Linked DNA regions of Homo sapiens. The protein of the gene in region 1 interacts with the protein of each later gene in a pairwise test. Each region holds a gene or a part of one and is shown in the gene's direction. Other genes may lie near its edges.

Evidence for each region.
Region 2: the proteins of EVI5 (region 1) and CEP19 interact in binary tests that used the Homo sapiens proteins (3 or more experiments, as listed by UniProt).
Region 3: the proteins of EVI5 (region 1) and ZNF446 interact in binary tests that used the Homo sapiens proteins (3 or more experiments, as listed by UniProt).
Region 4: the proteins of EVI5 (region 1) and TNFAIP8L1 interact in binary tests that used the Homo sapiens proteins (3 or more experiments, as listed by UniProt).

Annotation. Positions count from the first base shown.
Region 1 is NC_000001.11:92,781,116-92,790,090, reverse strand, and holds the start of EVI5 (ecotropic viral integration site 5 protein homolog), read left to right. Parts: upstream 1-4,982; 5' UTR 4,983-5,255; exon of another isoform or gene 5,256-5,795; coding exon of another isoform or gene 5,796-5,837; intron 5,838-8,975. UniProt on the Homo sapiens protein: Functions as a regulator of cell cycle progression by stabilizing the FBXO5 protein and promoting cyclin-A accumulation during interphase. May play a role in cytokinesis.
Region 2 is NC_000003.12:196,704,912-196,709,950, reverse strand, and holds the end of CEP19 (centrosomal protein of 19 kDa), read left to right. Parts: intron 1-1,223; 5' UTR 1,224-1,293; coding exon 1,294-1,423; intron 1,424-2,038; coding exon 2,039-2,400; 3' UTR 2,401-3,674; downstream 3,675-5,039. UniProt on the Homo sapiens protein: Required for ciliation. Recruits the RABL2B GTPase to the ciliary base to initiate ciliation.
Region 3 is NC_000019.10:58,471,517-58,480,735, forward strand, and holds the start of ZNF446 (zinc finger protein 446), read left to right. Parts: upstream 1-4,835; 5' UTR 4,836-4,988; intron 4,989-5,662; 5' UTR 5,663-5,702; coding exon 5,703-6,044; intron 6,045-6,120; coding exon 6,121-6,310; intron 6,311-6,570; coding exon 6,571-6,665; intron 6,666-8,126; coding exon 8,127-8,211; intron 8,212-8,413; coding exon 8,414-8,503; intron 8,504-8,659; coding exon 8,660-9,210; 3' UTR 9,211-9,219. Other genes in the region: ZNF324 (zinc finger protein 324A), read left to right, coding at 1-638. UniProt on the Homo sapiens protein: May be involved in transcriptional regulation.
Region 4 is NC_000019.10:4,641,961-4,650,525, forward strand, and holds part of TNFAIP8L1 (tumor necrosis factor alpha-induced protein 8-like protein 1), read left to right. Parts: intron 1-8,565. UniProt on the Homo sapiens protein: Acts as a negative regulator of mTOR activity.

The DNA of each region.
Region 1 (8,975 bases):
ATCCTCCTGTCTTGGCCTCCCAAAGTGCTGGGATTACAGGCATGAGCCACCATGCCTGGCTTAATTTAAGTTTAAATGTAAATAGTCACATGTTGCTAGTATCTCTAGTGGTTGCTGTATTGGACAGTGCAAACCTAGAATGTAACTGAGATGGTCTAGTTCTCTAAAAAGCTCCCAGGGTGAGGGAGGAATATTGTTCACAGTGGGTTTGACTTCTCTGGTGAGTTCCTTCTTTGTACCTTGGGTTGTTTTTTGCCTTTCAGAGGACTGTCTCCCTTGCATTTCCTTTCTGTGAACAATGGAGCTAACATGACTGACTTAAACACCTTTGGCAGTTTAGAGCACGGTGTTCCAGGGTTTAACCCTTGCCAAGTTTAGAGGGGTTCCCCTCCCAGACAGTGACCCAAATCAATGCTAAGGCTGTACAGTATCAGAACATAGAAAACTTTGAATTGCTCACTGAATTTACCGCAAATAAAACTATCTGAAGGCCAGGCGCGGTGGTTCATGCCTGTAATCTCAGCACTTTGGGAGGCTGAGGTGGGCGGATCACAAGGTCAGGAGATTGAGACCGTCCTGGCTAACATGGTGAAACCCCGTTTCTACTAAAAATACAAAAAATTAGCCAGGTGTGGTGGCAGGCGCCTGTAGTCCCAGCTGCTCGGGAGGCTGAGGCAGGAGAATGGCGTGAACCCAGGAGGCAGAGCTTGCAGTGAGTCAAGATCTTGCCACTGCACTCCAGCCTGGGCGACGGAGCGAGAAAAAAAAAAGAAGAAGAAGCTGAGGCAGGAGGATGGCTTGAATTCAGGAGTCCAAGTCCAGCCTGAGCAACATAGTGAGACCCAGTCTTTTAAATTAATAAAATAAAATGAAACCACAAACCTCAAACAAACAAAAAGACAAAACAGGATTTCAATCATTGTGAAGCTCTCGATCTAGTAGATGAGTAATGTATATAAACCAAAATATTACAATTTCAGAGAAGTGCTACAGGGCCTAATGTTTAACCACTTCTGGCATTCAACTGACTGTGTTAAAAACTCTGCCACCACTTTCCAGGGGTATAAATTGAGGTAAGTTATTTGGTATTTATTAAATTTCAGCTTCTTCATATGCAAGGGGGTTATGATAATAATACCTACCCCATGAGGACAATATGAGGATTAAACGAAATAGTGTATGTATACAGCCTTAGCCAATACCCATACATGTTGAGTGCTCAACCAGGTGTTAGCTATTAGATTTTAAAATTTTATTTAATTTTTATGGGGTTTTTTTTGTTGTTGTTGTTGCTGTTGAGACAGAGTCTTGCTCTGTTGCCCAGGCTGGAGAGCAGTGGCGCGATCTCGGCTCACTGCAAGCTCCACCTCTTGGGTTCAAGCAGTTCTCCTGCCTCAGCCTCCCGAGCAGCTGGGACTACAGGCACACACCACCACGCCCAGCTAATTTCTGTATTTTTAGTAGAGATGGGGTTTCACCATGTTGGCCAGGTTGGTCTTGAACTCCCGACCTTGTGATCCACCACCTCGGCCTCCCAAAGTGCTGGGATTACAGGCATGAGCCATCATGTCCTGCCTAGTTTTTTTTTTGTTTTGTTTTGTTTTGTTTTGTTTTTGAGATGGAGTCTCTCACTCTGTCACCTAGGCTGGAGTGCAATGGTGCAATCTCGGCTCACTGCAACCTCCGCCCCCCGGGTTCAAGTGATTCTCCTGTCTCAGTCTCCCGAGTAGCTGAGATTACAGGCACACGCCACCATGCCCGGCTAATTTTTTTTTTGTATTTCAGTAGAGATGGGGTTTCACTGTGTTGTCCAGGCTGGTCTTGAACTCTTCCGCTCGGGCAATCCACCCACCTTGGCCTCCCAAAGTGCTAGGATTACAGGTGTGAGCCACTACGCCCGGCCACTATTTTTTATAGTTTTTAAGGTAAAATTTACATTCACTGAAATGTTACCTGCATATTTTTTGATAAGTGAATATACCTATGTAACTCACATCCCTATCAAGATAGAGACCATTTTTACCACCCAGAAATTTCACTCATGTACCATCCCAGTCAATCCCCTGCCACAGGGAACCACTGTTATGATTTTTTTTCACCACAGATTAATTTTCTTTTCTAGAATTTCAAATAAATGGAACAGTATGACACTCTTTTGTGTCATTTATTTATCTTCACATAGATAATTCACATACTTTGTGTCATTTATCTTCACATAGATAATTCACATACTTTAAGATAAAAAAGGTACAATTTTAAACCTTTTGGGCATGCAGTAAAAATCTCCTTCCCACTGGTACCCACCAGTCACCCAGTCTTCCTCTCTCTTTCTCTCTCTTTTTTTTTTTTTTGAGACAAGATCTTTCTCTGTCGCCCAGGCTGGAGTGCAGTGGCACGATCATGGCTCACTTCGGCCTCACCCTTCCAGGCTCAAGCAATCCTCCTGCCTCAGGCTCCCAAGTAGCAGGACTACAGGTGCCTACCACCACACCTGTCTAAATTTTTTTTTGTATTTTTTTTTTGTAAAGATAGGGTTTTGCCATATTGCTCAGGCTAGTCTTAAACTCCTGATCTTAAATGATCCGCCGGCCTCAGCCTTCCAAAGTGTTTAGATTATAGGCGTGAGCCACCGTGCTTGGCTCAGTCTTCCTCTCTTGAAGCAATCAATGTTATTAGTTTTATGTGGGCCATCCCATGTCTTATCATTATTAATTCAGGTGCTTACAAAAGGCTCTTTGAGAACTGTTTTAAAGGTTACCCAAAGAATCTTGTGACAACCCAGCTAAAATGATATAAAATCAGTTTTAACATAACTGAAGTTTTTAGATTCTGATTCCAAATGTCAGATGGTGACATTTTACCTTTCTCTGACTTTATGCCAAATTTAGTTTAAGTTTTAGCATCTATAATTTTCATTTACTGAACAAATATATATTTAACAAATATGAAAATACAACCATGAAACAAACAAAATCAAATCCTGGACTTAAGGAGCTAATAGTAAAAAATTCACCAATATAACTACCCAATTACAGTTTCATGCGATGTGAAAGGAGTAAGAGACCACCATAGGGAGGTCAGAAGATGCTTCTCAGAGGTGGATACTAGAGCCGTTGTCAAAGGATGAGGACTGGGAGAACTTTCTGGGCACAGAGCAAAGCATGAGTAAAAGCTCTGTTGAGGCCAGGAAGCCGGTAAATAGGGAATAAAAGAGGCTAGCGTGGCTGGAGCACAGACAGCAGGGTGGAATTGGTCTGAGCAGTGAGAAGAGGTGGAGAGGTGGGCAAGGCACCTGGCCATTCAGGGCTTGGTTAGTTAGGAGGGTTTTTTCTAAGAGAATGGGAAAGTGTTTAAGTGGTTTAGGCTGGGAAGTGACAGGGTCACACTGTTATTTTGAAAAAGTCACTCTGCCTGTTGTGTTGAGATTAGAGAGGGGATAAAGGGAATATGGGTAAACCACAAGAAGACTAGGTCAGTAATCCCTCCACCCCCACTCCCCAGGTGAAGGTAGCCTAGACTAGGGTGGTGATGGAGGAAATAGGAGAGGACAGATTCAAGGACCATTTGTAAGGGAAAAACCAATAGAATTTGCTGACGGATGGAATATAAGAGGGGAGAGGTACATTATCAAGGATGTAGCTTAGTTTTCTTATACAAGGATTGAGTTGCAATAAAATTGTTAATTGAAATTTCTTTAAATAATGGCACAACCTAAAGTTATGCAAACATATGCCTCAGATAAAAGTTCAAGTTTTCAAAGTTTTTAGCTGGGTGGAGGGCATGGCTTTACTTCCTATTTCTTGGTATTTCCTAATCTTGTTGAAAAAAAAGTAAGGTTTTTTTTTTTTTTTTTTTCTGAAATGCTTAGTTCAGTGGAAACCCATCTGCGAATTCTGTCTTATAAATTTAAATTTAAAAATAGGGATACTAATTTCTAGACAAATAATTCCGGAGTTTCTTGTGCTGCTAATTATTATAATTTTTGTCCCTTTTTTTTTTTGAGACAGAGTATCGTTCTGTCGCCCAGGCTGGAGTGCAGTGGCGCGATCTTGGCTCACTGCAACCTCCACCTCCGTGGTTCAAGCAATTCCCCTGCCTCAGCCTCCAGAGTAGCTTGGCTGGGAGTACAGGCGCACGCCACGACGCCGGGCTATTTTTTTTTTTTGTATTTTTAGTAGAGACGGGGTTTCACCATGTTGGCCAGATTGGTCTCCAACTCCTGACCTCAGGCAATCCGCCCGCCTCGGCCTCCCAAAGTGTTGGGATTACAGGTGTGAGCCACCGCGCCCGGCTGTCACTTCTAAACATATAATGAAAGTAATCTGTATTGCCTTTTTACTTTTTCTTGCCTGCTTTTCCTGGACCAGAAATTAATAGGCTGTTTCCGTCCCAAACAAAGTACTTTCCTTCTAAGAATGTCTTCGTTGACGCTGGAGGGCTGCCCGGCTGAATCTTACGTATTCGTGCCCATGTTCTGCCCCCTGCAGTAGTCTGCATAAACCCAATGCGAAGACACGTGTAAGAGTACATTACAATTACAAGTGTCATTTACGCGTTGATTATTGTTTTTGCGAGTGCCCTAAGGCCACCTCTGGGGGAGCTCGGGGCTGCCTTCCGAAGCATGCGCGTCAGCACCGCGTGCCAGGGCCCTGAAAGTCAGGCTCCGCGTCGGTGCGGCAGCGCGAGGCCTGCAGTCCTAAGCTCGGGGTCGCTTCGGGCCCCCGAGGGGGTGTGTCTTCTACCGTTTTAACATGGAAGGGGCGGTTCCAGTGGCCGGGGAAGTCGGCGACTTGCAGGACTGAAGGCTGGTGCTTTGAAAGAGAGGCGGAGGGCGAGAGCGATTTCCCCGCCTCCTCTGCACTCCGTCCAATCCCTTCGCCTTCTCCTTTTCTCGGCCGGCCCGCCCGGCCCCTAACCTGCTCCAACCCATTCTGCGGTAGAGGCTGCCGGGTCTCTTTAAGGCCCTCCCGCGCCTGCGCCTTGGGCTCTCCTGACGCGGCCGGGCCGGACCCCGGAGGAACCAGCTGGCCAGCTGGCAAGGGGCTGGCTGCAGTTCCGACAGCGGCGGTGCCGGGAGGGGTAGGTGAGGGTCGCGAGGCGGCCCTGAGCTTCTGAGTGAGCGTGGTGCTTTTGGGAACTCGGGACGGGCGACCCGTGGAGCCAGGAGCGGGGCCGAGGCGCTGAGACGCGGCGGCGCGGCTGCCGGCTGGATGGGAAGTTAATGTTTACGGCGAAGTCTACTCAACGTTTCCAAGGTGAGGGGCGCTGCGCCAGGCCGGGCGGGCCGGGAGGCCGGGCGGGCGGTGAGTCCGTGTTCCGCTGGCGCACAGCTGGGCCGAGGCGCGGCGGGCGGGGGCCGCCGCAAGTTTTGCTGTGGGAGCGGGGCGGGCGCGCCTGGCCCCGCCAGGGCCTAAGTTCCCTGCACTCGCTTCCTCGCCTGTCGCCGCCGCCGCCGCCCGCAGCCCTCCTTCTCGTGGGCGCTGGGGAAGAAACTCGTCGGCGGGTCTAACTGTGGCGTCCCAGGGCGGTGGAGGGACGGAGCAGCTTCGGGGGCACGTCCTCGTAAATCCCGTGGAGGACACTGACCCTGCACCCCACCCTCGAGGCCAGAAGTCGGTTCCCTTTGGGGACCTGAGGGGCGAGAGCACTCGCCCCCCTGACTTGCAAAGTTGGCGTCTTTACTTGGCCTCCGGGATTCTGCGCATGGCGTGTCTCCAGGCTGCTGATGGGCAAGACAGATGTGCCAGGTCCAGAATGAACTTGAGAAGAGTTTGTAGCCATTCCTGAATCACCTTATGACTAGTGGGGCAAGCCTCAAATTAACCTCAGGATTTCCGGTAGGTTGGATTGTGGTGTTGGTGTTTCCACTCAAAAGAGTTGCTGTGATTTCCCTGTGTCTGTCTGTCTGTCTGTCTTTGGGGCTTCTTAGATCATCTCATTTGGCATCCTTTCACCCAAGAGTTAAACCAAGCCTTTTGGAATGGTTTCCTCGCTTTCCTCCTATCTATTGCTGGTAGAGCTGCTTTCGAAAAGAAGTATTTTCTTGAAGTGGTATCTTTTCTTTGGGTTACAGTGTTGAATAATAAACTCCTTTCTTTGCCGAAAGAATGAATTCCAGTGCTTACTGAAGTTAAAGAAAAGTGATCTGCTGGTAGTTTTTAATCTTTGTTCTGAGCTGATGTAAGTAACTTTTTTTGTTTTAAAATTTTGTTAGTAGAATTTCACCAGTGTACCAGAAGCTCTTTTTCTTTTTCTTTTCTTTTCTTTTTTTTTTTTTTTTTTGACAGGGAGTCTCGCTCTGTCGCCAGACTGGAGTGCAGTGGCGACGTTGGTTCACTGCAACCTCCACCTCCTGCGTTTAAGCAATTCTCCTGCCTCAGCCCCGCGAGTAGCTGGGACTACAGGCGCGCGCCACCACTCCCAGCTAATTTTTGTATTTTTAGTAGAGATGAGGTTTCACCATGTTGGCCACGATGGTCTTGATCTCTTGACCTCGTGTTCCACCCGCCTCAGCCTCCCAAAGTGTTGGGGTTACAGGCGTGAGCCACCGTGCCCGGCCTTCTTTTTCTTTTCTTTTCTTTTCTTTTTTTTTTTTTTTTTTTTTTTTAAGGCTGAGTCTCACTCTGTTGCCTAGGCTGGATATATTCTCCTGCCTCAGCCTCCCGAGTAGCTGGGATTACAGGCGTACATCACCACGCCCGGCTAATTTTTTTTTTTTTGTATTTTTAGTAGAAACGGGGTTTCACCGTGTTGGTCAGGCTGGTCTCGAACTCCTGACCTCAAATGATCTGCCCGCCTCGGCCTTCGAAAGTGCTGGGATTACAGGCGTGAGCCAGCGCACCTGGCCCAGGTGGTCTTTTTTCTGTTCTAAAATGATAACTACGATTTCCGAGAACTTTGTGTCAAATAAATCTTAGAACTAAGTTATTGAAGTATAGAGAAAAAGTTCACAATTCTAAATGTGCAGGTGGTCTGGGTGCGGTGGCTCACGCATGTGATCCTAGCATTTTGGGAGGCAGAGGCAGGTGGATCACTTGAGCCCAGGAGTTTGAGACCAGCCAGGGCAACGTGGCAAAACCCCATTTTCTACTAAAAATACAAAAATTAGCTGGGTGTGGTTGTGTGCGCTGGTAGTCCGAGCTACCCAGGAGGCTGAGGTGGGAGGATCACCAAAGCCGGGGAGGTCGAAGTTGCAGTGAGCCTTGATCATGCCACTGCACTCCAGCCTGAGCGGCAGAGTGAGACCGTCTTTCAAAAAAAACAAAAACAAAAAACATCGCAGGTAATGAATTTTTACTAAGTGAACCACCAAAGATCAAGAAATAGGACATTACTAGATTGGAGTATGTACGTAGGAGTGGCATTGTTGGTTTTATAGGTACGTGGGTGATAAAACTCTAGTATTAGAAATTGTTGAACATTTTCCCAAAGTGGTTCTACCAATTAGCAGGGAATGTTCCGGTTACCCCACATCCTTGCTGGTGCTTGTCAGTTGAAATTTTTTTTGCTAGTCTAGTAGAGGTACAGTAATATATCAGTGTGGTTTCATTTTGCATTTTCCTGGTACTGAGGTTGAGTATCTTTTGTTGACCATTTATATTTCCTCTTGTGAAGTGCCTGTTAAGTCTTTTTGCCCAGTTTTCGTTGATATGCTTATTTTTCTCTCATTTATAATGCTTTATTCTGGATATGAGTCCTTTCTAGGATATATATGTATTGCATTTTTATTTTTTTCAGTCTGTATTTTGCCTTTTCAGTCTTTTAATGGTGTTTTTTTTCATGCCTGGAGATTCTTAATTTGTGTGTGTGTGTGTTTTTTGTTTGTTTGTTTTGTAAGATGGAGTCTCACTCTGTTGCCAGGCTAGAGTGCAGTGGCGCGATCTCGGCTCACTGCACCCTCGCCTCCCGGGTTCAAGCAATTCTCCTGCCTCAGCCTACTGAGTAGCTGGGACTATAGGTGTGTGCCACCATGCCCGGCTAATTTTTGTATTTTTAGTAGAGACAGGGCTTCACCATGTTGGCCAGGGTGGTCTTGATTTCTTGACCTCATGATCCATCCACCTCGGCCTCCTAAAGTGCTGGGATTACAGGTGTGAGCCACCGTGCCTGGCCTTTTTTTTTTTTTTTTTTTTTTTTGAGACAGAATCTCACTCTGTTGCCCAGGTTGGAGTGCAGTGGCACGATCACGGCTCACTGCAATCTTGATCTCCCAAGACTCAGGTATTCCTCCTGCCTTAACCCCCAAGTAGCTGGAACTACAGATGAGCACCACCATGCCCAGCTAATTTTTGTATCTTTAGTGGAAATGGGGTTTTGCCATGTTGCATAGGCTGGTCTCGAACTCCTGGGCTCAAGTCATACACCTACACCAGCCTCAGCCTCCCAAAGTGTTGTGATTACAGGCATGAACCACTGCACCCAGCCTGAGATTCTTAATTTTAATGAAGTATACTTTATCAATCTTGTCCTTTATGGTTACTGCTTTTTGTGTCCTATTTAAGAAATCAATGCCTAACCTGAGAATATGAACATATTTTTCTGTGTTGTCTTATAGCAATTTTATTTTACTTTTTGCAAAAAAAATTTTTTTTTTTTTCAGACAGGGTCTGAAGTGCAGTGGTGCAGTCTCAGAACACTGCAACCTCCGCCTCCTGTGCTCAAGCATTCCTCCCACCTCAGCCTCCTGAGTAGCTGTGACTACGACTACAGGCATATGCCACCATGCCTGGCTAATTTTTGTATGTTTTGTAGAGTCAGGGTTTCAACATATTACCCAGGCTGGTCTCAAACTCTTGGGCTCAAGCAATCTGCCCTCTTCGGCTTCCCAAAGTGCTGGGATTACAGGTGTGAGCCACTGTACCCATCCCCTACTTTTTGCATTTAAGGTATATAATTTAGAGTAAATTCTTGATGAATCGCAGGGGTCAAGATTCACTTTTTAGGCCGGGCGTGGTGGCTCATGCCTGAAATCCCAG
Region 2 (5,039 bases), on another chromosome or scaffold:
ATCACTGCTAAGTATTTAATAAAAAGTATGTTCCTAATAGTGATTCTCCAGCAGAACTGAGTTCACGAAGATATCATCACCCTATGCCACTTTACCTCAATGTTTCTTGACATTTACAAATCTTTCTGGGAATGTCACAGTCACATCAAAAGCAGTGCTTAGGGTTAAGTGTATTCTTTGGGCACTGAGGGTGGGGAAAGGAAGAGAGAATAGTAAGTATTCATCTACAAATAGCTGTTTCTTGTAGCTAGAAAATTATCATATAGTGAGACACACAGGCCAAAATAAAAGCCCTGCAGACATTACTGACTATTGTATATGAAGAAGCTGAGATATGTGATGTATATGATGTAGCTGCAGACGTTACTGACGTGTATATGAAGAAGCTGATTCTGCAGCAGGTCTGCTTTTTGATCAGGCTTCTAGACTGTAAATGCTTTCAAAAATGTACAGGGACCATCATGTTAATTCATAGCATTAAACAATGTATGGAATGCCCACTACGTTCCAGGTATTATGCTGAGATATTGTGGTGGAAAATGAATATGCCCCCCACCCTCATGGAGCATATTGACTAGAAGGGAAGATAGATGATTAAATAAATAATGACAAAAAACTCTAGTAAAATAATTGGGAAAGTACAAAGGAGACAGTTCTGGATTGGTGAACCTCTCAGGACAAAATGATTAAGGTTAAAAAACTTACCTTATCATAGTACCTTGATACCGAGGATGCTCGATATGCCCTTTCTTAATTGATAAATAGTAAAGACCCTATAGGTCAGCTATTGGGCTGACTTAGGGGTTCATATTCGATCTTCAGTAAGAGTGCAGTACACTAAGAGGTTCAAACTGGATTGCATCCCCAGATTCACATATGAACAAGTCTATATCCTTGAAAAAACCAGATCTTAGGGATCCAACAGGTTGAAACTAACCCAGGGCCAAGCTGAACTTTCAGGGCAGTTCTCAAAATAACTGAGCTTTGTGGTCGTTCCCGCGCACATACCCCACAATTGGAATGATACAGAGAGGATCAGCATGGCCCCTGCGCAAGGATGACACACAAATTCATGAAGCAGTCCGTATTTTAATTTTAAAAAAAATGAGTTTCACAGGCTGAGCGTGTGTGGCCAGAGCCGGACTAGAACCAGATCTTCTGGGGCAAAGGGGCGAGGGGAATGAATGACATTTATCCAACACCTAGTTGTTTTTTCCCTTTAGCAGGAAGTCATTATGCAACTTACACATATTCATCAGATTTCCTCTGACTTACCCGGACATGTACATGGGAATGATGTGCACTGCCAAGAAATGTGGGATTAGGTTTCAGCCTCCAGCTATTATCTTAATCTATGAGAGTGAAATCAAGGGGAAAATTCGCCAGCGCATTATGCCAGTTCGAAACTTTTCAAAGTTTTCAGGTACCTCATGTCTTATCTTGCCTCCTGTCTTAAATATTCTCTAAATACAGGTTCACATCATGACTCTGTCAGGGACTGGATGTGTGACACTGGATGAATTACTTACTCTCAGTGAGCTTCAGTTTCCTAATCTATAAAAGGGAATTGTAGTGTTTTTTTCCAATCTGATAATTAATAATCCTTTTGGGATTGCTGCCTAGGTTAAATGATATAGCATTATTCAATAATATTAATTCCCTTCTCTCATTCCAAATGTTTTTTATTTGTAGTCTTAATATTTTATTAATACCACTACTGCTATCTAAAAGCTATAATATCACTTTTCTTCTCAGACATATTCTCCAGTTGAAAGTGTTTAATATCTCTACAAAGTGATTTTTAAGTTAAAGAAGTCAAAACTGTATCTGTCCTTCTCCCACCACACTGAAAGCTCAATATAAAGGAATGGTTCTACAAAGTAATTCATTCCAATCAAGCCATTTAGCTACTTGACTATAATGGAGATAATATTTTCAGGGTTCAGAGTTTTTGTTCTGTTTTGGCTGTTGCAGTAGTTTATGGCGTATATGATGTACGTGGTACGTATGTGGTATATAGTTTTCTTCTCTCTCCCAGATTGCACCAGAGCTGCTGAACAATTAAAGAATAATCCGCGACACAAGAGTTACCTAGAACAAGTATCCCTGAGGCAGCTAGAGAAGCTATTCAGTTTTTTACGAGGTTACTTGTCGGGGCAGAGTCTGGCAGAAACAATGGAACAAATTCAACGGGAAACAACCATTGATCCTGAGGAAGACCTGAACAAACTAGATGACAAGGAGCTTGCCAAAAGAAAGAGCATCATGGATGAACTTTTTGAGAAAAATCAGAAGAAGAAGGATGATCCAAATTTTGTTTATGACATTGAGGTTGAATTTCCACAGGACGATCAACTGCAGTCCTGTGGCTGGGACACAGAGTCAGCTGATGAGTTCTGATACCAAACACTCAAAACATGCATTGGGCTAGCAGAATATCCATGTTTATTACCAGACTGGTTCTGGAAGAAGCTGTAAAGAATACTAAATATGTTGGGTTATAGGGGATTGACCATGTTACTTTTCAAAACCAGGACATTTAAAGCATCTACTATGTAGGTGCATGAGGAGTATGGGAAAAACAGAATAAAGGAATCTGCCTTTAAGGAGCTTACAATCATGCCGGGTGCGGTGGCTCACGCCTGTAATCCCAGCACTTTGGGAGGCTGAGGCGGGTGGATCACCTAAGGTCAGGAGTTCGAGACCAGCCTAGCCAACATGGTGAAACCTCGCCTCTACTAAAAATACAAAAATTAGCCAGGCGTGGTGGCGGGTGCCTGTAATCCCGGCTACTCAGGAGGCTGAGGCAGGAGATTCGCTTGAACCTGGGAGGCTGAGGTTGCAGTGAGCCGAGATCGCGCCATTGTACTCCAGCCTGGGCGATGAGCAAAACTCCATCTCAAAAAAAAAAAAAAAAAAAAGCTTACAATCTGACTGGAAGATGTCAAAACCTGTGAAAAGCTAATTAGCAGTATTAAGCAACACAAACATTAGTGCCAAATGCATGATAAAGGCTAAAGAAGGCCAGAGCATATATTACTGTAGAGTAGAATAGTAAGGGAAGACTTTGTCCTTTAGTAAAGAGATAGGAGGTGGCCTGGCCCTTGAAATAGTAGTGTTTAGGTAGATGCTTGTGTAGGATTCCTGATAAGAGCAACTGAAAAGAAGGAGAGGGGAAGTAGTAAAGGGACAAGAAACAATTTTTTTTTTGAGGAACCATAAGCAAATTATAGTTTGACAAGACAAGATTGGGGGACATATATGGTTACCAGGGAATTACCTCTTATGTGTTATATCTTTATATTATTTATCTCTGGAAAAGAGTACCCTGCAAAATTCCCTACAGCTGCAAGCAGATGTCACTTGATGGACAGAGGGGGAATTCTGCCCCTCCGGTATCGGGAAATACATACTAAAGACATTGCGAAACGCTGAACCTCTTCCCATAAATAAAAGGTTTGTTTGTAAAATGGGAAATCCACCCATAATAAATGAACAATAGGCACTGCCAGTTTAGGCCTGTTCATGAATGGATCTGCAAGACAGCATCTTCGTTTAACAACATTATCTGTGATTTGATACATTTATCCTTATTACAATATTGTTTAGTTGGTAGAAATTCTATGTTTTCTACAAGGAAATTGATGTTTATTAAATAAAACTGAAAATAATTACTCAGTGTTTCTACCTGTTCACTTCCACTCTCCTTACCATTAAGCACTTCATTAAAAGGGAGCTCATTCTTGTAGTGATATCACCAGAGTTTTGAAATAGTCAGATCTCATACATACAGTAGCCAAAGGGAGCCAAATAATTTTCTGAATTAGAGATCTTTCCATATCTACATAGTATTCCTTTATTCTTTATTGTATAGATATAGGTAGTTTATTTTTTATTTGAGACAGGGTCTCACTCTGTCACCCAGGCTGGAGTGCAGTGGCATGATCACAGCTCACCAAAGCCTCAACCTCCTGGGCTCAAGTGAGCCTCCCCTCTCAGCCTCCCAAGTAGCTGTGAGTACAGGTGCCCACCACCACACCTGGCTAATTTTTGTATTTTTTGTAGAGACAGGGTTTCACCATGTTGCCTAGGCTTGTCTGGAACTCCTGGGCTCAAGTGATCCACCCACCTCAGCCTACCAAAGTGCTAGGATTACAGATGTGAGCCACTGTGCCTGGCTATAGGTAACTTATTTTAAAATTTGTCCTTGGGTTGCTGGGCGCAGTGGCTCATGCCTGTAATCCCAGCACTTTGAGAGGCTGAGGCGGGCAGATCACGTGAGGTTGGGAGTTCAAGACCAGCCTGACCAACATGAAGAAACCCCGTCTCTACTAAAAATACAAAATTAGCCGGGTGTGGTGGTGCATGCCTGTAATCCCAGCTACTCCGGAGGCTGAGGCAGGAGAATCGCTTGAACCCGGGAGGTGGAGGTTGTGGTGAGCCGAGGTCATGCCATTATTGCACTCCAGCCTGGGCAACAAGAGTGAAACTCTGTCTCAAAAAAAAAAAAAAAAATTTATCCTTGGGTTGTTTTCTCCTTTCATGACTACAAACAGTGCTACAACAAATAACCTTGTACATTCTCTGTTTTGCACATATGCAAGGATATCTATTAGATAAATGCCTAAAGGGGAATTACTAAGTATGTGCATTCTAAGTTTTAATAGATACTAAGTTGTCACCAATAGACGTTCATTCATTCATTATTTGTAGTTAATAAGCACTTACTACATTCTAAGCCTGTACTGTTCTGGAGTTTGGGGTTACAGCAGTATATACAGCAAAGTCCTGGGTTTACAGTTGGAGAGCAGAGACATAAATGCATAGAATAGTGTCATCAGATGGTAAGTGCTCAAAATGGGATGAAAAGGAGAATGATAGAGGGGATGGGAGCCACTGTTTTAGATCACATGATGAGCAAAGGCCTGAAGGAGGCAAGGAAAAATTGGTATGCATTTCAGGATTAGCGGGGAAAGGTAAGTGTATTAGCCCTGGGGCTGGAGTGTGCCTTGCATGTTTGAGGAGGAGCAGGAGGCCAA
Region 3 (9,219 bases), on another chromosome or scaffold:
GCTGCTCCGAGTGCGGCAAGGCCTTCAGCCACGGCTCCAACCTCAGCCAGCACCGCAAGATCCACGCGGGTGGGCGTCCTTATGCTTGCGCACAGTGTGGCCGCCGCTTCTGCCGCAACTCGCACCTGATCCAGCACGAGCGTACGCACACAGGCGAGAAGCCCTTCGTGTGCGCGCTCTGCGGTGCTGCCTTCAGCCAGGGCTCCTCGCTCTTTAAGCACCAGCGCGTGCACACAGGCGAGAAGCCCTTCGCCTGCCCACAGTGCGGCCGCGCCTTTAGCCACAGCTCCAACCTCACCCAGCACCAGCTCCTGCACACGGGCGAGCGGCCCTTCCGCTGCGTGGACTGTGGCAAGGCCTTCGCCAAGGGCGCCGTGCTGCTCAGCCACCGGCGCATTCACACGGGCGAGAAGCCCTTCGTGTGTACGCAGTGTGGCCGCGCCTTCCGTGAGCGCCCGGCCCTCTTCCACCACCAGAGGATCCATACCGGCGAGAAGACCGTCCGGCGATCCAGGGCCAGCCTGCACCCCCAGGCCAGGTCTGTTGCCGGGGCATCATCAGAAGGTGCGCCAGCGAAGGAAACCGAGCCCACTCCCGCCTCGGGCCCAGCCGCCGTCTCGCAGCCAGCGGAGGTCTGAGGTCACAGGTTGCAGCCCTGGCCTTCTGTGAATCCCTTCCACAGCTAAAGGGCATATGTCCTCTGCAGATCCACAGCAGAGAAAAAGTCCCGTGCTTGCTAGTCAGGGACAAGGGAGGCCCTTTGGCTGTGATTTCATTTGCACGTGGGGACAGGATTTGCCAGTTCACCCACAGATCACACCTCCATCCCCAAAGAGGTAGCACTGCAGCAACATCAGGGGGAGGACGTGGTGGCTGAACTCTAGTGGGGCCGAGACTATTCAGAGCCAGTAGGAGGCCGACAGTCACAGCACTGCACTGTGGTGCGGCTTCATGTGATATGACAGTGGATGCTAAGGTGAGAGGGATGCAGGCATGGGTTGGGGGTGGCCCAGAGAAACTTATGACAGCTGTACACAAACTGGCCGCTGGAGAGATGCCCGCTGAGGGTATTCTCCCCTCAACCCACTGCCTCTGTTCATCCAAGACTTCCTAGGGGCCAGCCTAGCAGACAAGAGACCACAAGGGACTGGGGATCAGGGTCTGGGCTCTGTCAGCCGCCACCTCTGGGAAAGAGAAAAGGTTTGGGTCCACTGAACATCATGTTTGTAGACGCTGACAGGTGGGGTCCTAATGAGAGCCAACACATGCTCACTGCCAGCTCCTGTCCTGAGTACTGGGAAGTTTCTCCTGAAGCCCTGTGAGATGGCTCTGTGGCTGGTATCCCGACTTGGAAGATGAGGAAACTGAGGCACACGGCCTGGCCTGGCTTCACACACATAGCCGACTCAGGAGAGGGATGCCCATGGGGGAACATGTGACTCTCAGCATTGGAAGGACAGAGCTAGGATGATGGCTTTCCGGTGGCACTCGTTCAGGTTTTTGCCCAAGTCTCAGCTTGGCCAAGGCCTGTCACTGACTGGTTTACCAAAGTCGATGTGAGGAGGAGGCTTTATACCTGAGGGGATGATGTTAACTTCAGACAAGATGGAGCTGCTCACTTTTGCCGGGTTTGGTGGCCACTTCACCCCCAACCCTGTCTCACCCCCATTATCCCTCCTCAATTGGAGGCTGGACAGAGCTGAATAGGAAAGACTTGCTATTGCCTAAGGCTATGTGTGACACCCTCCTGAGGACCTCCCCACCCCAGTGTAATGGCCCTTCATGGCAGGGACAGAAAGGTGGACTGGGGGCCATTTGCTTCCTGTGGCCTTCAGCAGACCAGGCCCTGTCCCTACCTGGAGCCTCACCTCCAAGGAAATTCATGTTCTCCTTAATGGAAAAAAAAAAAAAAAGACTACCATCTGCAACTCAGAGTAGGTGTTGCAGTTTCCTGTACAGCAGTTTGGACCTCCAGAGCACAGCCTCTTGTCCCTACTCCAGAGCATGGTTCAGTCTTAATAGCAGTTCAAGAGCTTCTCTGATAAAGGTTTCTTTTTAAACATTTGTGTGAACGGTAGCAACCTGACACCTATTTCACCCTCATACAATGCAGATGGTATTGAACATACCCTGACATGCCATCAGCGTTTGTCATCATCACAGAAGTTCCTGGACTTGGCTTCAACCTGGGTACCCTCAAGAGGCCACAGAGTAGAGATACAGCCTGTCTGCAGCCCAGGGAGGGAGTGGGATACCTGTATCCTTTTCAGGGTCAGAGGTGGGTTGGGGTAGCCAGGAGCTGGATGAACTGGGATAGAGTGGGGCTGTCTGGAGCAGCAGCCCTGCTAGATGAGTCCTGGTGGATCCTGGCAATGGGAGGATGGTAGGTGGAGAAACCAAGGCAGGGCTGTGTTCCTTCTGCTGCTGAGATAGAGGGTGTGGCCATGTGTGATGACCCTGCAAGGTTGACTCCAACCAGTGGGCACTCCATCCCATGGCTTCCAAAATCCTGCAGCTATCCTGCCCTATACACAAAGAGCCCAGATCCAGGCCCCACACACTTGATATTGGGGCCAGACTCTTCCACCTGTGAAACCTCACAGGTTCCTGCAGGGAGTGGAGACACACAGAACCTAGCTCCCCTGGAGCCTGCAAGACTTGGGCCACCAGAATCCCAGTAGGTCCCTGAACCATTGTCCCCCAGTAAGTCTGCAGAGCTGTGAAATGCAGACAATAACCCTTCCCTGCCTGAAAGAGCACTTTTCTGGGGAGCCCATGGGAGTCAGGAGCAAAAGCATCTGTCAAACAAGTAGATACCCAGAGAGTCACGTGAAATCATTTCTATGCCTCTGACAGACGCTTCTTGAGCGAAGTTTCTGCCCTGAGCCCGCCTGACCCCTTAGGCTGGGCTCAGTACCCTACCTTGTCTTCCCACCAGCCGCCTCCCTCCATCAAGTTCCTTTCCACGTCTGCTTGTGCCCCTGTTGTCCCTCAGTTTGTCCACCCTCCTCCAATCTTCCCCTCCCCAAACCCATGACTGATCAGTGGCCCCCAACCTAGGCTCCCACCTCCATGCAGGTCTTGGCCCCTCGGCTGACCTCCCTCCAACCTCCCCCTCTGCTCTTAATTTTGAATAGGTAGTGACTGTAAAAGTATCCCTGGGCTTCTATGTCAAAAGGTCAGACTGAACACATGCATCTCACTGGGCTCAGAAATCCACTGAAACCACAGAGGGGAGTATTTAAAACACATAACCCACAAGTATGAGGATGGTGACAGAGGAGTCAGGAGCAATGGCATTCCTAAGCTAGAAGTGGGTGAGAGCTGTCACTAAGTTAGGGAAGGCAAAATACTACGTGGCGACTTGGCGAAGAGGAGAGAGTTCCCACCAGGCTGACTCCAGAACCGCAGAAGGCTGAGAACCAGCAGCCCAGAGACGGGAGACCTATATCAAAGCTGCCTGGGGAACAACTACTGAAGAAGCCCTTAACGCCCCAGTGCTCTCCCCACATGGTGGAGGGTGAAAGTTTTTGTTTTTTTTTCCTTCTGGGACTCTGCATAGTCCCAGAGAAAAGGCCTAAGCACCTCATCCCCAAAAACAACCTGAGGAGGCCGTTGGAAAGCTCCGAGTTGACAAGTCTCATCCACGCACATGCTCGGTGCTTCCAATCGGTGATCAAGACCACTGCTCTTCATCCAGAGCAGGCAGCAGGGATTCCCAGGTATCCAAAGAAACCAAAACAGGCGGTGTAATTTAGGACTGACTAAGTAATGGCTCGGCCACTTTTAAGTGTGGAAGCAAAACTGACCCCACAGATTTAGAAAACTGTAACACTGCTTATTGGGAGAAACTAGTGTCACCCTGGCTAGTTCTGCTCCCCAAATTCAAAGGTAAATAAACGGTTGAGCATGTCCGATCAGCCTGGAGGGAAACCTCCACCCCCGACTTTGTAGGACTGACATCTGAAGACGTCAGAGACTGCGGTCACAACCGTCGGTACCTCCTTAGGGCGCTTAACAGAGGTCAAAGATGGCCCTCGCACCCTCCTGGCGGGAGAAAGCCCAGGCTCAGGGTGGTCTTCTACACCACCGCCTCTCCCGGGTCCACTTGGAAGCGAGTCCCAGCGAACTACTCGACCTAGGAAACCACTGGGCCGCCACTTCCAGCCTCTTCGGAAGTCGAGGCAACGCTCCTGAACGTTGCCACGGGAACAGCTGGAGGCGGGCGGATATGCCCTAGCGTTATCTAGGGGCTGGCCCGGGGAATGGCGTGGGGGCGGCGGGGCCAAGCAAGCGCCACCTCTGATTGGGCAAAACCCCCTCCCCTCACCTGCCAATAGAAACCGGCCCACTGTACAGACGCGCAAGTTTATAACCCGGGAAGAGCTGCTCTCAGAGCGGAGGGAGACCATATAACCCTGGGACTCTGCCGTACCTCCTAGAGGAACAGAGCGCCTCTCAGGCGTCAGAGGCTGCTGCAAATGCGGGTCAGCGGGTCACGGTCGCGCCTGTCTTGCTGATGCTCATGGGAAATGTAGTTCAAAGGGCATGGGCGGTGCCTTCGGTGCAGGCGAGAGATTGGTCAGCGCGGCGTCGCCGGGGCAACACCCGGCTGAGGCGCCCCGCGTTGTGCGGCGCCACATCCGGGAAGCGGCCTCCAAGCAACCGCTCCGGGTTGAGGTGAGCGCAGGCTGCCAGAGTGGGCGCAGCCTTTCCACCCCGTGGGAGGGCTTGGGGTCGCCCTCTGGGGCCTGAACGGCTCCTGCTGTCGGCGCCCTGGAGGGCCCGCCCACTTCCCGACAGGCCGCGCGCGTCACCTCAGCCTTCGCTCAGGCCTTTCCTACCCTCAACGCCGTTCCGGGGGGCCGGGCCTGGCAAGTCCTCTTGGAACGCCTCCCTCTTGCCTTCCCCTTTTGGGGACAGATCCCGAAGTTCGAGCATCCCTCGGATAGGCCGGGTGTCAGGCCTGGTCTCTCAGGCCCGTCCAGGTGGGCGTCTTTCACTGCAGACCTTCAGGGCCGGGATGCTGTGGCCATCCCTCGACTCCGCGCAACGTGGAGCTTTGGCCCCGTTTTTCTTGGCCTTTGCTTTTCGTTTTCACATGCACGGGCCCCGGCAGTGTGAGTCGCCCACGGCTCGCTGTGGTCAGCGAGCACGATGTCCACGTGCCCCCTCCCCAGAGCCATTCCTAAAGGAGGTCCCACCCAGTCAACCTCCCCGAGATTGTGGAGGGCGACTCGTCCCCGTACATTACAGCCTGGCCCCACCTTCTACCCGCCCACCCTGGTCCACTCTCCTCGCACCTCGGCTAGACACTGTGGCTCCTCAGCCTGGCGCTGGAACTCTGTGATGACTGTCTTTCTCCACCTCTTTAGCGTCATCTCCCAGCAGTCCCCTGCTGGACCCAACTGTTTGCAATTTCCAGGAAGCTCCCTGGACACCTTGCGTCCAAGCATTTGTCCCTGAGGCTTCCTCCTGCTCTCATTTGCCATCATTGTTTGGGTCCTGTGACCCTCCTCCTTCCATGAAGCTTTCTTGGCCTTATCTCTTCTGGCCTCAGAGTACACTTGGTCCTGGTCTCAGCCCCCTGGGCTGAGCCTGGTGTCTGCCTTCCCCTGGCCAGATTCTCTTGGCTGACATTCCGACCCTTCCTTTTCTGTAGGCCCATCTTGACGATTCCAAGACCACCCCCTTGAGCAAGAATGCCATCCCCTCTGGGTCCCCCATGCCTGCCCGTCATGGACCCAGAGACCACCCTTGAGGAGCCTGAGACTGCCCGCCTCCGCTTCCGAGGGTTCTGCTACCAGGAGGTGGCAGGTCCCCGAGAAGCCCTGGCCCGGCTGCGTGAGCTGTGTTGCCAGTGGCTGCAGCCTGAGGCACACTCCAAGGAGCAGATGCTGGAGATGCTGGTGCTGGAGCAGTTCCTGGGCACACTGCCTCCCGAGATCCAGGCCTGGGTGCGCGGTCAGCGGCCAGGCAGTCCTGAGGAGGCCGCTGCCCTAGTCGAAGGACTGCAGCATGACCCTGGGCAACTGTTGGGCTGGGTGAGTGTGGCTGGCATCAGCTTCTTGGAGGGATAGACCCTGGCTAGAGCCATTGTGACCTACCTCTTCTCCTCAGATCACAGCCCATGTCCTGAAGCAGGAGGTGCTCCCTGCAGCCCAGAAGACAGAGGAACCACTTGGGAGCCCCCACCCCTCAGGGACAGTGGAGTCCCCTGGGGAAGGTCCCCAGGACACCAGAATAGAGGGGTCTGTCCAGCTCAGCTGCAGTGTGAAGGAGGAGCCCAATGTCGATGGACAGGAAGTGGGTGAGGTTGGGGTCCCACCAGAGATGAGGGACTCCTGGAGGAAGTGTGGACATTCCTGGCTAGGGTGGGAGTCCCAGGAGAGGTGTGTCAAGGCTGGGACTCCTGAAGTGAATGTGGATGTCCCTGTCTGGGATGGGGACCTGGGAGGCAGGAGCCAAGGGCTGGCTACGTGCCATGTCACACAGCAGAGGAGCTCCTCATCTGCCATGGCTCATGTGGGCAGCCCCTGACACCACCCTTCCATCTGCCCCACTTTTCAGCACCCTCCAGCCCTCCACTTGCAGCACAGTCCCCTGAGGGGAACCATGGACACCAAGAACCAGCCTCCACATCCTTCCACCCACCCAGGATTCAGGTGAGCAGCCCCAAGTGGGAAGTATAGGCCCCAGGTGTGAGAAGGGACTGTCCCCATGGCTGCCCTCTGCCTGGTGGTTTTCCAGGCTCCTTGACTAGTGGCTCTTTGCTTCCCAGAAGTGGAGTCTGTAAAAGCTGTACCCCTCCACAGGACCTGGGGCAGAGGGACAGACTGGTGATCTATTATTGAAAAGGATTTGGGGCTGGACATGGTGGCTTACACCTGTAATCCTAGCACTTTGGGAGGCTGAGGTGAGCGGATCACCTGAGGTCAGGAGCTCGAGACCAGCCTGACCAATGTGGTGAAACCCTGTATCTACTAAAGATACAAAAATTAGCCAGAAGTGGTGGCAGGCGCCTGTAATCCCAGCTACTAGGGAGGGTGAGGCAGGACAATTGCTTGAACCCAGGAGGCAGAGGATGCAGTGAGCCGAGATTGTGCCACTGCGCTCCAGCCTGGTCAACAAGAGCAAAATTGTGTGTCAAAAACAAAAAAAAAAAAAAGGATTTGGGCCTCAAGCCATGGAAACCCAGTTTAGAGTGGCTGGAACTAGTGGGCTTGGCTTCCTCACCTCCAGAGAAGTCAGCTGGGAGGTTTGCTGCTCCCAGAGGTCCTGAGCCAGACCTGGGGATTTGAACTTTTGTGTGTAGCTGGGGAGGGGAGAAGATGACCAGCTGTGGCAGGACTCCCCCCACACCTGAGACCAGATGGAGACACTCTCCCTGGGAAATGCCCGAAGTCCCTTCTCTCCTAGGGGTTTCTTCAGAGGCCACCTGTTAGGCCTGGAAGCTCAGCTTGAGGCCTCTTCTACCTGGATCGCTTGGTTCCCAAGTGTGGGTAGCAAGGTCTTTTCCTCTCCCGGCTCCTCTAACAACTCCACTGGGGAGCTTCAGCAGCAACATTGCTGGTTGAGATGTGTTTCGAGGCTAAGAAGTCCTTCCAGGCTCCCTCCACAGCCCCATGGCACAGTCAGAAAGTGAGGCAGGGTGGGTAGGCTGCACTTCCCAGTGTCCTCACCTCCAGCCAGCACCATCTCTAGCTGTGGCTCCTCACAGCTGCCGCCTTCCTGCCCCTGGACTTGCCACAGCTTGTCCCTCAGGATTATTTTTCCCAACCCAGCAAAGCCCCAGATGATGGGACTCAGGCAGCAAGGAGGGCTGACCCCCAATCAGGGAGTTCATTCCTCGATAAAGTCACTCAGGTCCCTGTGATGCTGCCAAACCTGCCCTCTGAGCAGGATGGTGTAGTAGAGGGGGATGAGTGCTGGCAGCAGCACTGGTCAGGTGATCTGAAGGAGAACCTCTGCACTTAACAAACACACACCTTGAGATCATTCTCAGCAGGAGGGGCAGATGAGGCGTAGGTAACCTGCTGACTCTTCCGGGTAATAGGTAAGAATGTGAACCAGACAGGGCAGGGAAGGGGTGGAAAGACGCCTACAGTGATGGGCCACATCCGCAGGAGGAGTGGGGGCTGCTGGACCGGTCACAGAAGGAACTGTACTGGGATGCGATGCTGGAGAAGTACGGCACAGTGGTCTCCCTGGGTGAGGACCAGCCAGCCCCACCCCGCCCCTCTCCCTGGGGCCTGCACCCACCCTGCAGCAGGCCTAGCTGGGCAGGGCCTCTGTGCTACCAGCCCTACCCAGCTCTCCCACCTTCCAGAGGAACACCCTGTCACCTACCAGAACCGACCCCACCCCTCCTTCATGCAAACCCCATGCCTAACTGTGCCCCCCACCCGGGCAGGGTTACCGCCCCACCAGCCAGAGGCACAGGCCCAGTCAGAGCTGGGGATGCTGCTCACGGGGACAGGCGTCTGCAGAAGCCTGCGCTCGGGTGAGTGCCCCACACCATCCAGCCTGAATCACCCCTCCTGTATCGGTGGGACCTGAGCCACCCACTCATGGGGGGACGGGAGCTTGTGCCACGGCCACAAGCCTGAGGGAGGGGTTGCTGAGTGCCGGGACTCACCTGGTTTGCCCCTGCCCCCAGGAAATGAGAGTGAGGGTCCACCTGGCTGCCCAGAGGCCCAGCCGCCCCAGGGCCCAGGGCCGGCAGCCTGGGAGGGCTTGTCTGGGGCTGCCACTCCTGCCCCCACTGTGCGCCCAGGGACACCGCCAGTGCCCACTCAGCCCACACCTGCAGAGACGAGACTGGAGCCGGCTGCCACCCCCAGGAAGCCCTACACGTGCGAGCAGTGTGGCCGCGGCTTCGACTGGAAGTCAGTGTTCGTCATCCACCACCGGACACACACGAGTGGGCCAGGTGTGCAGTCCCCGGGGCTAGCCACCGGGGAAAGCACAGAGAAGCCACCACAAGGGGAGGTGGCCTTTCCGCACCACCCCCGACGCTCACTCACAGGCCCCCGGAGTTACCCGTGTGAGGAGTGCGGGTGCAGCTTCAGCTGGAAGTCGCAGCTGGTCATCCACCGCAAGAGCCACACAGGCCAGCGGCGTCACTTCTGCAGTGACTGTGGCCGCGCCTTCGACTGGAAGTCGCAGCTGGTCATCCACCGCAAGGGCCACCGGCCGGAGGTTCCATGAGCAGCCAGA
Region 4 (8,565 bases), on another chromosome or scaffold:
TCTAGAGAATTTCCCAGCCTGGGCAACATGGTGAAACCCTGTCTCTACTTAAAACAAAGAAAAAAAAATTAGCCAGGTGTGGTGTCGCAGGCCTGTAGTCCCAGCCACTCTGGAGGCTGAGGTGGGAGGATCACCTGAGCCCAGGGAGGTTGAGGCTGCAGTGAGCCGAGCTCATGCCACTGCACTTCAGCCTGGGCGACAGGAGTGAAACCCTGTCTCAAAGAAAAAGAAGAGAATTGGCTGGGCGCCGTGGCTCACGCCTGTAATCCCAGCACTTTGGGAGGCTGAGGTGGCCGGATCACCTGAGGTCAGGAATTCGAGACCAGCCTGGCCAAGAGGGCAAAACCCTGTCTCTACTAAAAATACAAAAATGAGGCGGGCGTGGTGGTGGGTGCCTGTAATCCAGCTACTCAGGAGGCTGAGGCAGGAGAAACACTTAAACCCAAGAGGCAGAGGTTGCAGTGAGCCGAGATTGCACCACTGCTCTCCAGCCTGGGTTGACAGAGTGTGAGACTCCATCTCAAAAAAAAAAAAAAAATTAAAAATATACACATAAAATAAATAAAATAGATGGGGGATCTGGGAGGGCTTCCTGAGGAGGGGCCATGTAAACCCAGACCTGGATGACAAGAAGGAAACAGCCATGTGGAGACCTGGGAGAAGAGCAGCTCAGGCAGAGGGCACAGGTTGTGTAAAGGCCCTGGGGCAAGATGGCGCCTGGCATGGTAGAGGAGCAGCAAGGAGGCCCGTGGGGCTGGAGCAGTGAGGAGGAGGAGAGAGGGAGGAGGGGAGGGCAGGGAGGGGACAGGGCAGGGTGCGCAGGATCTTATGGGCTGCCAGGAATACTTGGCTTTGACCCCAAGGGAGGTGGGAGCCATGGAGGGTGGTGGGCAGGGGAAGGATGGAACCTGACTCAGGTACTCACAGGCACCCATTGGCTGCTACAGGGAGGACAGACGGGGGGCATGGGGATAGATGGTGCTGAGGGACGAGGGGACCAGGATGGAGGCTGTGGGGGAGATAAGAAGTGGGTTGCGTTAGGCCAGGCAGGGTGGCTCATGTAATCCCAGCACTTTGGGAGGCTGAGGCAAGTGGATCACCTGAGGTCAGGAGTTGGAGACCAGCCTGACCAACATGGTGAAACCCCATCTCTACTAAAAATACAAAAATTACCCAGGCATGGTGGCACGTGTCTGTAATACCAGCTACTCAGGAAGCTGAGGCAGGAGAATCACCTGAACCCAGGAGGCGGAGGTTGCAGTGAGCCGAGATCACGCCGCTGCACTCCAGCCTGGGCAACAGAGTGAGACTCTGTCTCAAAAAAAAAAAAAAAGTGGGTTGCATTGGGACACATTTAGGGGCTGGATGCACCTCCTGCCAGGTGATCCTAGGCTTCTCTGCACTCTAATAATTTATTGCTTGGGCTGAGGCAAGCCTGTCCCCTCCTCTGCAGAGTCATGGGCTGTGGGTAGCTGATAATTCATGTTTGGCCCTCGAACCCTTTCTCCAGTGGAAATCTGGCCACAGTGGAAAGTGTCCAGGCTCCCCGCCACAACCCAGCAGGCAGCTGGCCCCTGCCCATCCATGGGGTGGTCCTGAGGGTGCTGGGGAACCCAGTTTGAGAACAACTGATGTCACCCCCAACTTGGGCCAACAGATTCCCCTCTCTCTTTTGCCATAACTAAAATGGACACTGGCGAAGTATGGCGGCTCATGCCTGTAATCCTAGCATTCTGGGAGGCCGAAGCAGGAGGATCGCTTGAGCCCAGGAGGAGACCAGCCTGGCCAACATGGCAAAACCCCATCTCTACTAAAAATACAAAACTTAGCCAGGCATGGTGGCAGGTGCCTGTAATCCCAGCTATTTGGGAGGCTGAGGCAGGAGAATTGCTTGAACTGGAGAGGTGGAGGTTGCAGTGGGCTGAGATCGCGCAACAGAGCGAGACTCCATCTCAAAAAATAAATAAATAATAAAATTGGCCGTTCACGGTGGCTTATGCCTGTAATCCCAGCACTTTGGGTGGCCGAGGCGGGTGGATCACCTGAGGTCAGGAATTCGAGACCAGCCTGACCAACATGGAGAAAACCCCGTCTCTACTAAAAATACAAAATTAACCGGGCGTGGTGGCGCATGCCTGTAATCCCAGCTACTTGGGAGGCTGAGGCAGGAGAATCACTTGAACCCAGGAGGCAGAGGTTGCAGTGAGCTGAGATCATGCCATTGCACTCCAGCCTGGGCAACAAGAGTGAAACTCCGTCTCAAAAAAATAAAATAAAAATAAAATAAAATGGACACTGGCCAAGTGTGGCAGCTCACGCCTGCAATCCCAGCACTTTGGGAGGTCAAGGCGGGAGGATCACTTGAGCCCAGGAGTTCGAGACTAGCCTGGGCAACATAGCAAGACGCCATGTCTACCAAAAAAAAAAAAAAAAAATTAACCAGGCATGGTGGCACATACCTGTAGTCCCAGCTACTCAGGAGGCTGAGGTGGGAGGATCACTTGAGCCCAGGAGGTCGAGGCTATAGTGAGCTATAATGGTACCACTGCACTCCAGCCTGGGCAACAGAGTAAGACCTTGTCTTAAAAAAAAAATGAATAAATAAAAATAAAATGGACACCGGCTTGCAAGTCCTGAGTCATGGATTTTTTTTTTTTTTTTTTTTTTTTTGAGATAGAGTCTCACTCTGTTTCTCAGGCTGGAATGAAGTGGAGCTCACTGCAACCTCTGCCCCCCAGGTTCATGCGAGTCTCGTGACGCAGCCTCCCGAGTAGCTGGGATTACAGGCGTGTGCCACACACGGCTAATTTTTGTATTTTTAGTAGAGATGGGGTTTCACCATGTTGGCCAGGCTGGTCTTGGACTCCCGACCTAAGGTGATCTGCCCGCCTCGACCTCCCAAAGTGCTGGGATTACAGGCATGAGCCACCACGCCCAGCCTGTGAGTCATGGGTCTTAAAGGGCTTGGTGCAGTGGGACCCTGGGAGTCGGTGGGATGAGGCCTGGGATCACTGGCCTCGGCGGGAAGAGGCCTGAGGCCCCCCCTGGGCCCCCGGACTGAGTGCAGCCGGGGCTGAGACAAGACAGATGGAGCGGCTGGCGTGCACCTGCAGAGCAGATCCATCAATTATTGACACTCTGTGAGGTGCATGAAGAATTCATGGGACAGGGGTGGGGACGGCAGGGACTTGTGACATAATTGCAGCCAGCTCACCAGAGCCACCTCCTGTGTTTTCAGGAATTTTGCCATCTGGTAGTTAAACGCAGCCATTATTTAACGTGGGAGAATATAAACTTATAGTTAAGGCTGGGCGTGGTGGCTCCCACCTGTAATCCCAGCAGTTTGGGAGGCCGAGGCGAGTAGATCACTTGAGGCCGGGAGTTAGAGACCAGCCTGGCCGACATGGCCAAACCCCGTCTCTACTAAAAATACACAAATTTGTATTTTTGTACAAATACAAATACACCAGCTGGGTGTGGTGGCATGCACCTGTAGTCCTAGCTACTTGGGAGGCTGAGGCTGAGGCAGGAGAATCGCTTGAATCCGGGAGGCAGAGGTTGCAGTGAGCTGAGATTTGGCCACTGCACTCCAGCCTGGGAGACAGAGCAAGACTCCATCTCAAAATACATACAAACATACATACATACATAAACTTATAGTTAAATAAAGTACATTTAAGCCAGGGGTGGTAGCTCACACCTGTAGTCCCAGCACTTTGGGAGGCTGAGGCAGGAGGATCCGTCTCAAAAAAAAAAAAAAAAAGGAATATAGGGAGCAGGGGAAGAGTCAAGGGAGCCAGGGAGTTGGTGCCTGGTCACCCATTTTGCAGATGGGAAAGCTGCCCCCATGCATGGGGCCTGCCAAGGGTCACAGCAGGGAGACCTCAGAGCTGTGGACGGACCTGGACAGAGGCTGTGGACAGGGCTGAGGCCTCCTGGCTGTTCCTGTAACAAGCGTGACACAGCCCTGCCCCAGGGCCTTTGCACAGGCTGTGCCCTTTGCCTGGAGCATCTTCCCGCAGACCCTGTCATTGCAGGCCCAGTTCAACTGGCCCAGCCTCTCCCTAGAGAGGCCCTCCTGGTTACCCTGAACTTCATCCCCCACCCCCGTGGCCCATATCTCTCTTCCTGAAATTAACTTGTTTGTTTCTATTTATTGGTTACCGGCACCTCCTCCTTCCAGCAGGGGAACAGTTTTTGCACCCAGGCTGGAGTGCAGTGGAACAATCTCGACTCCCTGCAACCTCCGCCTCCCAGGTTCAAGCGGTTCTCCTGCCTCAGTCTCCCGAGTAGCTGGAATTACAGGTGCTCGCCACCACGCCCGGCCGACTTTTTTTTTTTTTTTCAGTTGAGTCCGGGTCTCACTATGTTGGCCAGGCTAGTCTTGAACTCCTGGCCTCAATTGATCCTCCTCCCTCTGCCTCCCAAACTGCTGGGATTACAGTTATGAGCCACCGCACCTGGCCAATCATTGTTTTAAAGTGTACAATTTATAACCAGAAAGTTATGTGACCATCATAAATTTCTGGAATCTCTAATTCCAGAACATTCCATTACCACTCACCCCAAAAAAACCTGGTTCCCAATTTAGCAATCGCTTTCCATTTTCCCCTCTTCCAGTTTCCAGCACCCGCGAGTCCGCTTTCTGCCCTTGTGGACAGGCCTCTCCTGAACATTTTTTTTTTTTTGAGATGGAGTCTCGCTCTGTCACCCAGGCTGGAGTACAGTGACGTGATCTTGGCTCACTGCAAGCTCCGCCTCCCGGGTTCACGCCATTCTCCTGCCTCAGCCTCCCGAGTAGCCAGGATTACAGGTGCCCGCCACCGCGCCCCGCTAATTTTTTGTATTTTTAGTAGAGACGGGGTTTCACCGTGTTAGCCAGGATGGTCTCGATCTCCTGACCTTGTGATCCGCCCGCCTCGGCCTCCCAAAGTGCTGGGATTGCAGGCGTGAGCCGGTGCCCGGCCCTTCCTGAACATTTCATAGAAGTGGGATCACACACTTTGTGGCCTTGTGTGTCTGGCTTCTGTCACTGGGAATGATGTCCTCAAGGTGCATCCACGCTGGAGCTTGTGTGTGAGCCTCGTTCCTTTTATGGCTAGAGAACATTCCATTGTTTGGACCGATCTCATTTTGTTTATTCATTCACCCATTAATGGACATACGGACATTTGAGTTGCTTCCACTTGCAGGCTACCCTGGGTCACGCCGCTGTAAACTGTGACGTGCAAAACAAGTGTTTGCGTGGTGTATGCTTGTGTTTCTCTTGGGTAGATCCCCCAAAGTGGAATTGCTGGGTCCTATGGTAACTGTGTGTTTAGATGTCTGAGGAGCCGTCGGACTGGGTTTTTTTGTTTTGTTTTTTGTTTTTTGTGACGGAGTCTCGCTCTATCACCCAGGCTGGAGACCTCGGCTCACTGTCACTGCAACCTCCACCTCCCGGGTTCAAATGATCCTCCTGCCTCAGCCTCCAGAGTAGCTGGGATTACAGGTGCCTGCCACCATGCCCAGCTAATTTTTTTTGTATTTTTAGTAGAGATAAGGTTTCACCATGTTGGCCAGGCTGATCTCAACTCTTCACCTCAGGTGATCTGCCCACCTCAGCTTCCCAAAGTGCTGGGATTACAGGTGTGAGTCAGTGCACCTGGCTTTTTTTTTTTTTTTTTTTTTTTTCCTTTTGAGACAGGGTTTTGCTCTGTTGCTCAGGCTGGAGTGCAGTGGTGTGATCATAGCTCACTGCAGCCTTGACCTCGTGGGCTCAAGCGATTCTCCCCCTCTCAGCCTCCCGAGTACCTGGGACCACAGACCCGTGCCACCATGCCTGGCTAATTAAAAAAAATTTTTTTTTGTAGAGATGGGATCTCGCTATGTTGCCCAGGCTGGTCTTGAACTTCCCAGTTCAAGCAATCCTCCTGCCTTGGCCTCTTAAAGTGTTGGGATTACAGGTGTGAGCCACCTTGCCTGGCCCAGATGATTTTGTAATGAGGAGGCAGCTTGGGGTCTAGAAAGCCAGGGCCTTAGCAAGGCAGGGATGGGATCTGTTTTGATGCCTGCTGTATCCCCAGTGCCTCTGTGGTCTCTTCTGCAAAGCAGGCAACCTGGCCAGTACCAGGTGGGAATGACGAATAGGCACAGGTCGCTGGCTCAGGACACTGGGGTTTGGTTACAAGCTTCTGCCCCAGGACAGCTGGTGCTCCATAAATGCTCGTTGAGCCACTGAATGGGTGTTAACACCTGAATCCCAGAAGCTGTAGCAGGCTGTGTGTGTTTGTGACGATGGCAGGGTGCCCTGGCATTTGGAGGGCGATGCCCCTAGGCCCCAGGCAGTCCCTAGGAAGGCCCCTGCCCTGTAAGGGCTGATGCGGCCGCTACACCGCCTCCTGCAGGAAGGAAGACCCAGGTTTATTTTGGTCCTCGGCCTGTTCCCCTGGGAGAGCAGTCATCCTCCTGTCTGGCTGCCTGGATGGGAGCGTTTCTGGCAGAACAATGGGTCAGGGAGGAGGAAGGGGAAGGCCAGGCAGCTGGGCCGCCCCAGGTGTCAGCAGGTCCCGGGGCTGCCCCGGCCGTCTTAGGAGTGTGGGGGCCAGGAAGGGAGGCCACAGCTGCTTGCCCCCCATCCCTCTTCCTGTTGGCCTTGCAGGGGGCGGGGGTTGCTCTTGGGAGCCCAGGCCCTTCCTGAATCTGTAAACAGGCCTGACTCCCGTCCGGAATCAACTTCTTCAGCCTCAGGACTCACAGATGGGAAAGTCAAGGCCCAGCGAGGGGCACAGCCCTGCCTGGGGTCACGGAGCTCCCGAGATGGGCAGAAAGATGTGGGCTCCAGGGCCGATGGGGTCCAGGGGCCTCATCCCCAGATGCAGAGAAAGGCCTTTTCCTCTTCGAGTCCCCTCGGTTTATTCATCTATGAACTGGGGAGGCTGGACCCAGGGGTTCGGGAGTTTCCTCTTAGAATCTGCAAACATCCTTTTTTTTTTTTTTTTTTTTTTGAGATTGAGTTTTGCTCTTGTTGCCCAGGCTGGAGTCCAGTGGTGTGATCTCAGCTGACTGCAACCTACGCCTCCTGGGTTCGAGCGATTCTCCTGTCTCAGCCCCCAAAGTAGCTGGGACTACAGGCGCCCACCACCATGCCCAGCTAATTTTTGTATTTTTAGTAGAGACGGGGTTTCACCATGTTGCCCAGGCTGGACTCGAACTCCTGACCTCAAGTGATCCTCCCGCCTTGGCTTCCGAAAGTGCTGGGATTACAGGTGTGAGCCACCGCGCCCGGCCAGCTTTTTTTTTTTTGCACAGGGAATCTCACTGAGATAGAACTAGGTCTGCAAGTTCACAGAGCTGAGGTGGGCACGGAAGGGCGGAATTCCAGGCAGTGGTTGCAGCCTCTCGTCCAGAGGAAGCTCACAGCTTAGGGGGCATTGCGGTTTGGTCACAAGCTTCTGCCCCAGGACAAAGTTCGTTCCGATCTTCCCCATATTTCAGATGGGGAAACTGAGGCACATTGTTAAGTTGCTTGCTGCAGAGGCCAGAGCTGGGAGCAGGCCCTAAATATCAGGGTTGCCCTCTAAGACTCACGGCCAGTTGAGGGCGTTAGGTGGGGAAGGCACAGGGAGTTGGGGTTCAAGGGCGTTGAGAGCCAGTGGTTACTGTATTGCTGTGTGGTCTTGGGGAAGTGGCTCAGCCTCTCTGAGCCTTTGTGGTCTCTTCTGCAAAACAGGCAACCTGCCTAGTACATGGTGGCGATGACAAAGTGGGCACACATCGCTGACTCAGGGTCTGCCACGTGGCACTGAGTCAACAGCACCCCTCTTCTGGCCTAGGCCTGTGCAGAGCCAGGGTCTGGTGACCGAGGTCGGAGGGCAGGGGCGGCCCATCCAGCAATTCCCGTGCCTGCCCTGACCTCAGAGGGCGGCCGAGGGTTTGGAACTTCTCCCGGAGTCTGAACTCACACAAAGACCGGCTTTGTGGGGGCTCCTGGGGTAGGTGGGTGCCCACATGGCATTCCAAGGCTGGCAGCCTGGCGCTGGGGTGGGAGTGGAGGCTGAGCAGGGTCTGGGGCAGTGAGAGAGACCGGGGGCGGGTCTCAGGCCCTCCCTCCTCCGCCAGTTCTTCCACACTCCCCTCTTCATTCAGCAGATGTTTCTGGAGTCTGCAGGGACACCGTGGATAAGGAATTGGGCCCATGACCTCCCCTGTGGCCTGGGGTGAGGCAGACCAGTTGGGGTGCAGAGCTGGGGAGCAGAGGAGCAATGGGGATGCCTGGGGAACCTGCGGCTCAGAGGAGGCAGAGACTTGGGGGCCAAAGTGATGGGGATGTATAGTTTACCAGGGAAGAGGCAGGGGCTTGGGGGCCAGGCTTTGGGGGGTGTATAGGAGTTCACCAGGGAGGAGATGGGGCCTTAGGGTATTGAGGTCCACAGGGAAGAGTCAGGGCTCCAAGTGAGGTGTGGAGCTTGGTCCTGGGAGCTTTGAGGAGCTGTCAGCTTGTTCTCAGCAGGTAAGGGCTATGCCCTACTCTGAGATTTAGGAAGAATTCCGGAGCTGCAGGAAGGAGGTGGGTGGAGGGGGAAG